2 separate regions of the Homo sapiens genome follow, and region 1 is linked to region 2. The links come from fine-mapping of genetic effects on gene expression. A gene starts in region 2. The other region holds a variant in brackets. All regions are shown on one strand. Distances are from middle to middle.

What was found. PIP is the estimated chance that this variant, and not a neighbour inherited with it, causes the effect.
Region 1: its variant is the best candidate, but not a certain one, in a credible set for the expression of EFTUD2 in whole blood (INTERVAL, PIP 0.66).

What each region holds. Positions count from the first base shown.
Region 1 is chr17:44,857,259-44,862,622 of GRCh38, forward strand. EFTUD2 (elongation factor Tu GTP binding domain containing 2) reads right to left here. Exons shown (of 28, transcript NM_004247.4): 17 at 3,174-3,285; 18 at 2,647-2,787; 19 at 1,822-1,923. Among named protein-coding and RNA genes, the nearest start is that of HIGD1B, 12 kb to the left of the region's middle. The variant C/T (reference allele first, on the strand shown) is at 2,479.
Region 2 is chr17:44,897,219-44,902,594 of GRCh38, forward strand. It overlaps EFTUD2 (elongation factor Tu GTP binding domain containing 2), which reads right to left and starts at 2,227. Exons shown (of 28, transcript NM_004247.4): 1 at 2,151-2,227. DNAAF19 (dynein axonemal assembly factor 19) reads left to right here and starts at 2,511. Exons shown (of 4, transcript NM_213607.3): 1 at 2,511-2,641; 2 at 3,772-3,923; 3 at 4,302-4,434; 4 at 5,147-5,376. The coding sequence starts at 3,781.

The DNA.
Region 1 (5,364 bases), 40 kb before region 2:
GAAAACCCCAACTGCCTTAATCAGCACAAGTGATAAGTACAACAGCAGGTTAAAAGAGCTGTCCAAATCATCACCAAAAAGCCCAAGAAAACTTACTGTAGTAAAGAAATTAGATTCCTGAGCCAAGAGTAAGTGGGGTATCAAACTAGGGCCTTAATTCTAGTCTTCAAAGGTAGCTCTCAGCATCCATTCAGCCATCTACCACCATTCACTGAACAACCCCCATGGGTCTGACAGAGCTGGTGCTGAGACCCACTGGCGTGCACCCATGTCATTCTCAACCCACAGCATCTGAGTGAAGCTCTGCCCTGAAGCCCCAACATGGTCTGCTGCCCAGGAAACCCAGTGTTTTCTATGACACCAATCCTTCCTCCTTCCTAGATACATCAGTAGAGGAGTCTAAGAGGGGTATTGAGGGTCCTCCACAGGGCCTTGGAGAAAATACGACTCAACTAGGACAAGGAGGCCAAGCAACACATGGTTTGAGGGGCTACATCAAGGCTTGACAAAGAATCTGGGAGAGACAGTCCCCACCCTCTCCTTGAAACCACCCACTCTGAGACCTAATCACCACCCATGGGTTAATTGTTTAATTGTGCAATTATTTCCCTAACAAAGGACCAAGAATAACTTTGGCTTGGGAGCCTTTATTTTCTTTTTCCTTTTTTTTTTTTTTTTTTTGAGACAGAGTCTCGCCCTATCACCCAGGCTGGAGTGCAATGGTGCGATCTTGGCTCACTGCAACCTCTGCCACCCGGTTTCAAACAATTATCCTGTCTCAGCCTCCTGAGTAGCTGGGATTACAGGTGCCCGCCACCATGTCTGGCTAATTTTTGTATTTTTAGTAGAGACAGAGTTTCACCATGTTGGTCAGGCTGGTCTTGAACTCCTGACCTCAAGCAATCCAACCGCCTTGGACTTTCAAAGTGTTGGGGTTACAGGCGTGAGCCACCGTGCTCGGCCTGTTTTATTATTTTTCAATGCATTTATTTTTTGAGACAGGGTCTTGCTCTGTCACCCATGCTAGGGTGCAGTGGCATGATCGTAGCTCACTGCAGCCTCGAACTGCTGGGCTCAAGCAATCCTCCTGCTTCAGCCTGCGGAGTAGCTGGGACTATAGGTGCAAGCCACCACACCTGACTAATTTTTATTTTTTAGTTTTTTGAGACAGGGTATGACTCCATCTCAAAAAGGAGAGCAATGGCACAATGATTGCTCATTGCAGCCATGACCTCCTAGGCTCAGGTTGGAGAGCAATGGCACAATCACAGTTCATTGCAGCCTTGACAGTCTAGGTTCAGGTGATCCTCCCACCTAAGCCCCCCAGTAGCTGGACTACAGGTACATGCCACTGCACTGGGCTGGTTTGTAGAGACGAGGTTTCACTATGTTGCCCAGATTGGTCTCAAACTGGGCTCAAGCAATCCTCTCACCTCAGTCTCCCAAAGTGCTGCAATTACAGCAACGGACCACCATGCCCGGCCTGGCTATTTTTTTTATTTTAATTTTTGTAGAGGCAGTGTCTCACTTTGTTGCTCAGGTTGGTCTTGAATTCCTGGCTACAAGCAATCCTCCCACCTCGGCCTCCCAAAGTGCTGGGAGTGAGCCACCAAGCACGGCTGAGCCTTGATTTTAAACGTATGACACAGCAGAAGGGGGCAAACCAGTTCTCAAAAACCTTCCCATATAAGGAGCAACAGATCATGGTTTTCACAAACACATGTACTCTCTCTTCCCTTGGAGCTTCCCAGGAATTCAAGGATTTGGTCACTTGTGAAAAGTCTGGACCGTGAACCCAGCTCCCGGCAGATACTGCTGTACCTTGATGTCTATCTCTGAGTACATCTTCCGCAAATCATGCATCACACAGTCCAGGTAGAGCTCCCCAGTGCCCAGGATCACATGCTCGCCAGACTCCTCCACCTGAAACACAACAGGCAGTCACAGCCTGGATTCTCTTATGCCAGCAAAGGCACACACAAACAAAATCAAGGCCAGAGCAGACAAGAAGTTGCCTATCAGAAACAGCTACTACTTAGCATCTGTTCCAGCCTCTTCAAGAAGGTTCAGTGAGGAGCATCTGCCTATGAGTGGGTCCTCAAGACACCAGGACCACTCAGCATGGTGATACTAGGTGTGAAGTCAATGATTTAATTCCCATCTTAATGATTTAGGTCAAACTCTACCCTATACCCATGGACATAAGCTAGCCCTTTAGCCCTCCTGGCCTGCTACCTGGAAAGGTACACTGGCAGGCTCATAGTGTACAAGGATCAGAGTAACAACTCACTTTTCCTTCTCTTCTCGAGAAAATCAATTCAAAGTATACTCATTAAGAAATGTATTTTTGTCTAGATAAAGACATCTGCGGAACACAAATACGCACACACACACACACACACAACCTTGTCCTATACCCCCCATCACTGCCCCCTCCTACACAGGTCTTGTTTTAACACACACACATACACACACACA[C/T]GTGTCTTGTCCTGCCTTGACATGACAGCCATAGGCTGGGCTTGCTCCTGACACAGCTTCCTGTAAGCAGCAGATCATGAACACCTGATGGATGGGAAGCGGTGTGCAGCTCTGCCCATTCAGCTGGGGATAGTGGGGCTTGGCGGCTGCTGCAGGCCATGGGCATACCTTGGTGGTGAGGGATGGATAGCTCTTGTTGACCTTGCGCAGGCCATCAAGCATCTTGGGCAGCTCTGAGGGGTTGACTGGCTCCACAGCAATCTTGATAACAGATGTGGTATTGAACTTCAAGGGTCGGAAAATCTGAGCCTGAGATCCAAAGCACAAAGGACTGAGGGCAACTGGCATGAGCAGGCACAGAAAGTGCAGAGGTATGAGAAGAGAAGAGGACTTGCTTAGGATCAGACTATGTATTCCCCAACCAGGAGCCTGGTGCTGAGTGGGGGTAACCTGAAGGGCCATTTCTTCCCAGGTATTCTGGCAGAACAAAGAGAGGAGGAAAATAATAAAAGGCACCCGTCCTAATTCCTCGCATCTGAACTGAGTACAGGGAGAATCCAGCAGGGTCATATCTAGAAGGCTAAGCCTGAAACCAGGACATGGCAATGACTGTGGATTAGTCCCGTTTGTGCTCATGTGTGTCCCTGGGACCATCTAGCTTAAGCCAACCCAGTTGGTCTCTTCAGAAACTCTACCTCCTCATTGCCTCGGGGTTCGGTTATGGTTGCTGTCTTCACAATTGGTTGATCAACACCTTCAATCAGAACCCAGTTGCCAGCAGGAACACGGTTCACCTCGATGTGGTACCTGAAGCAATGTCCAATAAGCAGCAGTGAAACTTAGGCAGAGCATTCCCTAATTTTTTTTTTTTTTTTTTTTTTGAGACAGGATCTCACTTTGTTACCAGGCTGGAGTGCAGTGGCACAATCTTGGCTCACTGCAGCCTCGAACTTCCAAGGTTCCAGTGATCCTTCTGCGTCAGCCCCCCAAGTAGCTGGGACTACAGGCACACACTAACATGCCCAACTAATTTTTGTATTTTTGTAGAGACGGGGTTTTTTCATGTTGTCTAGGCTGGTCTTGAACTCCTGAGCTCAAGCAATCCTCCTGCCTCAGCCTTCCAAAGTGCTAGGATTACAGGTGTGAGCCACCACATCCAGCCTATTCCACAAAAATTTACTGAGTACTTGCTGCGTGCCAAGAGCAGGGGTGAGCAAAACAGATACATTCTAGCAGGGGAGAGATACAGTAAACAATCATTATCCACACATGTATGTGGTTACAAACTGATGGGCATTATGAAAGAAAAGTACAAGGTATTTCTGTGAGGACATAAGAGGAAAATCTTATTCCAATTGCAGGCTCATGGTAAAAAGCTGCCCAAGGTGTCGACTGTAAGGGGCTAGCAAAAGCATCAAAGAAGGCCGGGTGTGGCGGCTCACGCTTATAATCCCAGTGCTTTGGGAGGCTGAGGTGGGTGGCTGGATCACCTGAGGTCAGGAGTTTGAGACCAGCCTGGCCAACATGGTGAAAACTATCTCTACTAAAAATACAAAAAATTAGCCAGACATGGTGGTGCACACCTATAACCCTGGCTACTTGGGAGGCTGAGGCAGGAGAATCGCTTGAACCCGGGAGGCAGAGGTTGCAGTGAGCCGCAATCACGCCATTGCACTCCAGCCTGGCTGACAGAGAGAAAAAAAAAAAAAAAAAAAGGCTGGGAGCGGTGGCTCACACCTATAATCCCAGCACTTTGGGAGGCTGAGGCAGGTGGATCATGAGGTCAGGAGATCGAGACCATTCTGGCTAATACGGTGAAACCTGTCTCTACTAAAAATACAAAAAAATTAGCTGGGCATGGTGGCGGGCGCCTGTAGTCCCAGCTACTTGGGAGGCTGAGGCAGCAGAATGGCATGAACCCAGGAGGTGGAGCTTGCAGTAAGCCGAGATCACAGGCACTGCACTCCAGGTTGGGCGACAGAGTGAGACTCCATCTCAAAAAAAAAAGCATCACAGAAAACTTCCACTTTCCCAGCTCTTCAATATTCCACCTTTTGGCATTTAGGGTGGATTTAACAAAAGGGACCACCATTGAGGCAGGGTAGCCACCTTAGGGAACACGAATGCTTTGGTTTAACTTGTCAACTGGGAAACCAAATTCATAAACTGACAAGTAGCCCAGAGGCCCAAGCTAAGTTTGACTGCAGATTGGGATGCTACAAGGGATCCAGCGAAGCCTTCTCTCTTGGTCAAAGAGTAGACAGTGGAGTTGGGGAACAATTTCTTTTGGGAAGAAACACAAAGATTATGACTTAAGGAACACAGGAGAGGAAATGAAAAGAGGATTAAGATGAGTAACAATGGAAATCCTCCTACAAAAGTTCATACAAGCTTCATGCTTTCAAAAGGGCTTTAAGATGGTGTGTGGTGGCTCACACCTGTAATCCAACACTTTTGAGAGGCTGAGGTGGGAGGATCACTTGAGCCCAGGAGTTGGAGACCAGCCTGGGCAATATAGTGAGACATTGTCTCTACAAAAAATTTAAAAATTAGCCAGACATAGTGGTGTGTGCTTGTAGTTCCAGCTACTCAGGAGGCTGAGGTGGAAGGACTGCTTGAGCCCAGGAGGCGGAGGTCGCAGTGAGCTGAGATTGTGCCACTGCACTCTGGCCTAGGAGACAGAGTGAGACCCTGTCTCAAAACAAACAAATAGGGCTAAAAAAAAAAGTTCACACGAGCCACCCAAAGTGCAAAGGCGAAGCTTCTGGCACTGTTCCAACAGTAGCTGCCTTTGGCCCCAGCAAACCTGGGACAGGAAGAACTTGAAGTCAATAGCCCTGCGGAGGGAGAGCCACTTTATCCCCTCTTGCACAGAGCCTTGCAACT
Region 2 (5,376 bases):
AAAAAAAAAAAAAAAAAAGAATTTACCAGAGTCCTAGGCTCAATAAACGTTAGCTAGCATTATTTTTTGCCATCCTTGATCATGAGAACCCTGTGTTCCATGCACCTGCTTCTTCTCTTCACTTCTTTTATGATACTAAATTTAATTTTAAAATAATACCAAAAAGTGGCAAGAACAGTACAAATAACTTTCTTTTCCCCAAATATTTGACAGTATGCTGCTGACACAATGCCTCTTCACCTCCTAATACTTTAGAGCAAGAGTTGACAAACTCTGACCTGTGGCCAAATCTGGCCCCTCCAACTGTTTTTGCATGGTCCTCCAGCTAAGAATGCATTTTACATTTTTATTTTTTTATTTTTTTGAGACGGAGTCCCGCTCTGTTGCCTAGGCTGGAGTGCAGTGGCACGATCTCGACTCACTGCAACCTCCGCCTCACAGGTTCAAGCGATTCTCCTGCCTCAACCTCCCAAGTAGCTGGGATTACAGGCACCCGCCATCACACTTGGCTAATTTTTGTATTTTTAGTAGAGACGGGGTTTCAACCATGTTGGCCAGGCAGTCTCGAACTCTTGACCTCAGGTGATTAGCCCACCTCGGCCTCCCAAAGTGCTGAGATTACAGGTGTGAGCCACCGCACCCGGCCACATTTTACATTTTTAAATAATTGAGAAAAAAGTACCAATGCTAACACAGCCAATAGCCAAGACAGCACCTTGCATAAGTAGGAACTGGATAAATGTTAACTGAATGGGATGTTTAATTTTAAGATGCTGATATTTCTTGGATTAGACTGATACCTCCAACTCCCTCAATGCCACCTGCTGGGTGCTGAATGTAGAGAGAGAATTGGAGCTCCAAGGACCAATAATTAAATGTAAATTATTATGGAAACTTTCACATGCATATTCTTTTTACTTCTAAAAAGCTACTATCGCATTTATGCTTATCTCATTCTCCCAAGACCCCAGTCAAGGGATTGAAGAAATTATTTATTTATTTTATATATATTTTTTGAGACAGAGTTTTGCTCTTGTTGCCCAGGCTGGAGTACAACGGCACGATCTCAGTTCACTGCAACCTCCGCCTCCTGGTTTCAAGCGATTCTCCTGCCTCAGCCTCCCGAGTAGTTGGGACTACAGGAGTGCACCACTACGCCTGGCTAATTTTTTTGTATTCTTAGTAGAGATGGGTTTTCACCATGTTGGCCAGGCTGGTCTCGAACTCCTGACCTCAGGTGATCCGCCCGCGTCTTTCTCCCAAAGTGCTGGGATTACAGGCGTGAGCCACCGCGCCCGGCCGATTGAAGAAACTGTTATAGAAAGCTGTTCATGGAACAAGCCAAGCTCATTTCTGCCTCAGGGCCACTGCACTTGCCTTTCTCTTTGTCCAAAACGCTCTCCCCTTTGATATTTTTCACCTTGTTCCTTTATTTCAATCAAGTCTCCACTAAAATGTCATCTTCTCTGTCACTCTAAAAAGTCCCCCATACATACTCTCCAACTTCCCACTTTCACTGTTTTATTGCTATTCACAAATGTTATACATTTATCACTAGCTGACTTGTATCTAGTTGTTTACTGTTCATTTCCCCAACTACAATTGAAGCAAAGACTTTGTTCACTTAGTACTGTGCCTAGCATAGACTAAGCCCTCAATAAGTATTTACTGAACTAATGAATGACTCTAACAAGGTACACAGAATATAGCTGATTTGCCCACAGTTACACAAAACTAGCGACTCATGGTAACAAACCTCACTGCCGCTTCCCGCTACAATGCAGGAGCTCAGAGGACTTCGGAGGGAACTTGGCAAAGAACGGCTGAAAGCGGCACGGATAGAAGAGGAAGTGAGCGAGGGGACTGGACAGTTAGAGCACCACTCCTACCTAGCGATACGATTTTACGGACTGAGGCTATAGAGGCAGCCCCGAAATCGAGGTGTGTGCGTGTGTGCGCGCTTCGGAAGCCTTGGGAAGGCACGAGGACGACAGGGTCTTCCATTCTTTTTCCCGCTCCAGGCCTCAATTTACCGATCCGTAAAGCGAAAGGGGCCAATAGCATATAAGGCCCCTTCCAGATCTGACGCTTTTTAATTTCCTATCCCACCTGGAGCAACCCTTCCGTGCCGCTGACCCGCTTCAACTTACCTCTCGCCTGCTCAGCTAAGAGTTCCCAGGCCGCTGCCGGAGATCGTGCTTCCGCCCCACGCCGAGGAAACGCCTGCGCCCGCCGCCAGGAAGGACCCCGCAGACGCCGCTGTCGCCTTTCTGCCCGGGAGGACAACCCTCTGCCTGAGGACCAGTTCCGAGGTATGCCCGCCGCGGACTGGCAAGGCGGAGTAGCGGGTCCCCAAGACGAGTAGCCCAAGACGTGGGCTGCTCCAAAGAGGGTGAGAGCTGAGGATGAACGAATCTGATCAGGCGCCTCGGGACCACCCTGAAAATGGGGGGAGGGGCCTTCGGGCAGATCACGTGGTCAGGCTGTTAGCGCAGTTGCTAGGCAACCACAGCTGCGGGCGTGGTCTGCGCGGGGTTGCCCTCCTGTTCTGGTTTATCAGGGGATCCCCAAAGAAAGCAAGGGGACCAAGGCCGGGACTGCTGGGGTGAAGGTCCGGGAGGCTGAGTAAGGGGACGGAAGGGTTAGTTCTATGTATTAAATGCCTGGGGAGGGCTGAGAACTGGACACCTGATTTCGGTTACTGGCCACCCCAGCCCCTTCTTGGCGTTCAGATTCCCTACGTTGGGGTAGGGTGGCTATGGGATTGGTTGGGGACTTCCTGCTTCCTTGCGCTAGGGCTGTTGGTGATGACCCCGCCACAAAATCTAGCTCAACTCACTAGGAGTTTGCAGTTCAGAGAGGTCCCACAAGTAAATGCCAGAGCCACGACTAGAACCCACGTAGAGAATCTCTCTGCAGTGGCTCACGCCTGTAATCCCAGCACTTTGGGAGGCCGAGGCGCGCGGATTACTTGAGGTCAGGATCGAAAATTGCTTGAACCCCGGAGGCAGAGGTTGCAATGAGCCAAGATCGCGCCACTGCACTCCAGCCTGGGCAACAGAGCCAGAAAAAAAAAAAAAGAAAAGAATATCTCTGTAGAAATGATCAGTCAGCCTCAGATATGCAGAAACTACAGAAGTACAGTGATAGAACTAAAGGCATTGCCCAGGTACCTAGGGACCTCTGTTCCAGCCCTGGGCTGGACAGAGGGATTTGGGGATGGGGTCATTGAGCTCCTTCCTTTGCCCCTTCTACTTGATTTCCTGCTCAGTCATTGCATCTGGTTTGGGTGAAAGTCTCCTTCCTCATTAAAGACATTCAATGAAGAATGAAACTTTATCCCCGAGCTCAAGGGTAACTAACAAGAGTTCTGCCTTTGTGTGAGGTCCCCTGTCGAAACGACTTGCTGTAGAACAATCCTATGGGGGAAGAGTGAAGAAACTGAATTCTGAGATCCCAATGCCTCCTCGACTGAAGCACCAAAATTAAAAATATTTTTAGAGGCAAAGAGCAAAATTAAGACAGAACTCCAAATTGAAAGTCAGGACTCTGTATTCTATTTTCAGGGACAAGTCTTGTGTAAGTCCTCACTGTGAAATTCAACTTGTCTTTGTAAAATAGAAAACCAGATTTTTGTAACACCTCCCAATCTGAGTGACATGATGTCCAGAGTGCTTTGGGGTCATTTTGTGTTCTGGTGAATAATTCAGAGGTACCCTCTTTCCCCTGATATTGACTGTCCACTGACATGTATTCCCTTTGCCTTCCCAGGCACAGGCCATGGAAAGGAATGACATCATCAACTTCAAGGCTTTGGAGAAAGAGCTGCAGGCTGCACTCACTGCTGATGAGAAGTACAAACGGGAGAATGCTGCCAAGTTACGGGCAGTGGAACAGAGGGTGGCTTCCTATGAGGAGTTCAGGTTGGCTCACTGCCATTTTTCTCAGGCCCTCCTGTTATGGTGGATTATAGTAGTTAACTCTGAAATCAAACCATTCTGGGCTTCAGTCCTGGCCCCACCGTCTACTGTTTGATCTTATGCAATTTCCTTAACTTCTCTGAGTCTCAATTATTTATCTGTAGAACAGTAACTGTTATAATTAAATGAGTTCTTGCACATAAGACTGAGCAAGTGTCTGACACATGTGAGGTGCTTGAAAGCAGTCAGCTATCGCTGTTGTTATTATTATGGTCATATTGGTCCGTAACAGGTTTATCCTATACCATGCAAAGTCTAGCTGCCTCACACCCACAGACACAGCATTAAGTCCATTGCCTAATTTCTGTCCTTTGCCTACAGGGGTATTGTCCTTGCATCACATCTGAAGCCACTGGAGCGGAAGGATAAGATGGGAGGAAAGAGAACTGTGCCCTGGAACTGTCACACTATTCAGGGAAGGACCTTCCAGGATGTGGCCACTGAAATCTCCCCGGTAGGTGAGGCCCTGCCCCTTTAGTCCAGCAGGATTCTCTGCCCTAAAGCTTCAATCCTGTTTTTTCATTTTGTTTTGTTTTGTTTTGTTTTTTTAACCACACATACCTCTTCTTTATTTGTCATGTTAAACCAACAGAGATAGGTTTCTGCCTCCAATCCCAGAAAGAAAAACAAACAGCAGATGGCAAAGCTGAGTTGAAGTGGGCAGAATGAGTCAGAAAGTTGGGCTAGGAAGGTCGGCTTCCCTTAGTCCTTTGACTTTCATTCTCAGATCAGAATTGGGATGCTCTGCCTCTGGGTTGTATGGTGTCTAGTGTAATGATCCTGTGGCAGTGTTGAGAGAGAGACCCCAACATTCAGATCCTTGAGTTCCTTTCTCTCTTCCTGAGATTTCCAATCAACCCATCCACCCGACTTACAGTAAACCCTGACTTACTCTTGAAGACCAGAGCTATGTCTCCATTCATGAGTAGGAAAATTCCAGTATAAATGAGAATCTCAAATCATGGCGTGGATTCCTTGGGGCCCTCCCTGTTTCATCCCCAGTTTCCTCATCTGAAAATGAGGCCGCCAAGGACCACAGCTTTCCCAGTGCTCAGACAGTAGTGAGATGAAGACAGTAAGATGAAGAGCTACAGGCTCCCCTCCCTGTCACTGTTGCAGAACAGCTGGAAGAGCTCCTGACTCCCTTTCCTTCCTTTGTGGTCCAGGAGAAAGCCCCCCTCCAGCCCGAGACGTCTGCTGACTTCTATCGTGATTGGCGACGACACTTGCCAAGTGGGCCAGAGCGCTACCAGGCTCTACTGCAGCTTGGGGGTCCAAGGCTCGGCTGCCTCTTCCAGACAGATGTGGGATTTGGACTTCTTGGGGAGCTGCTGGTGGCACTGGCTGATCACGTGGGGCCGGCTGACCGGGCAGCGGTGCTGGGGATCCTATGCAG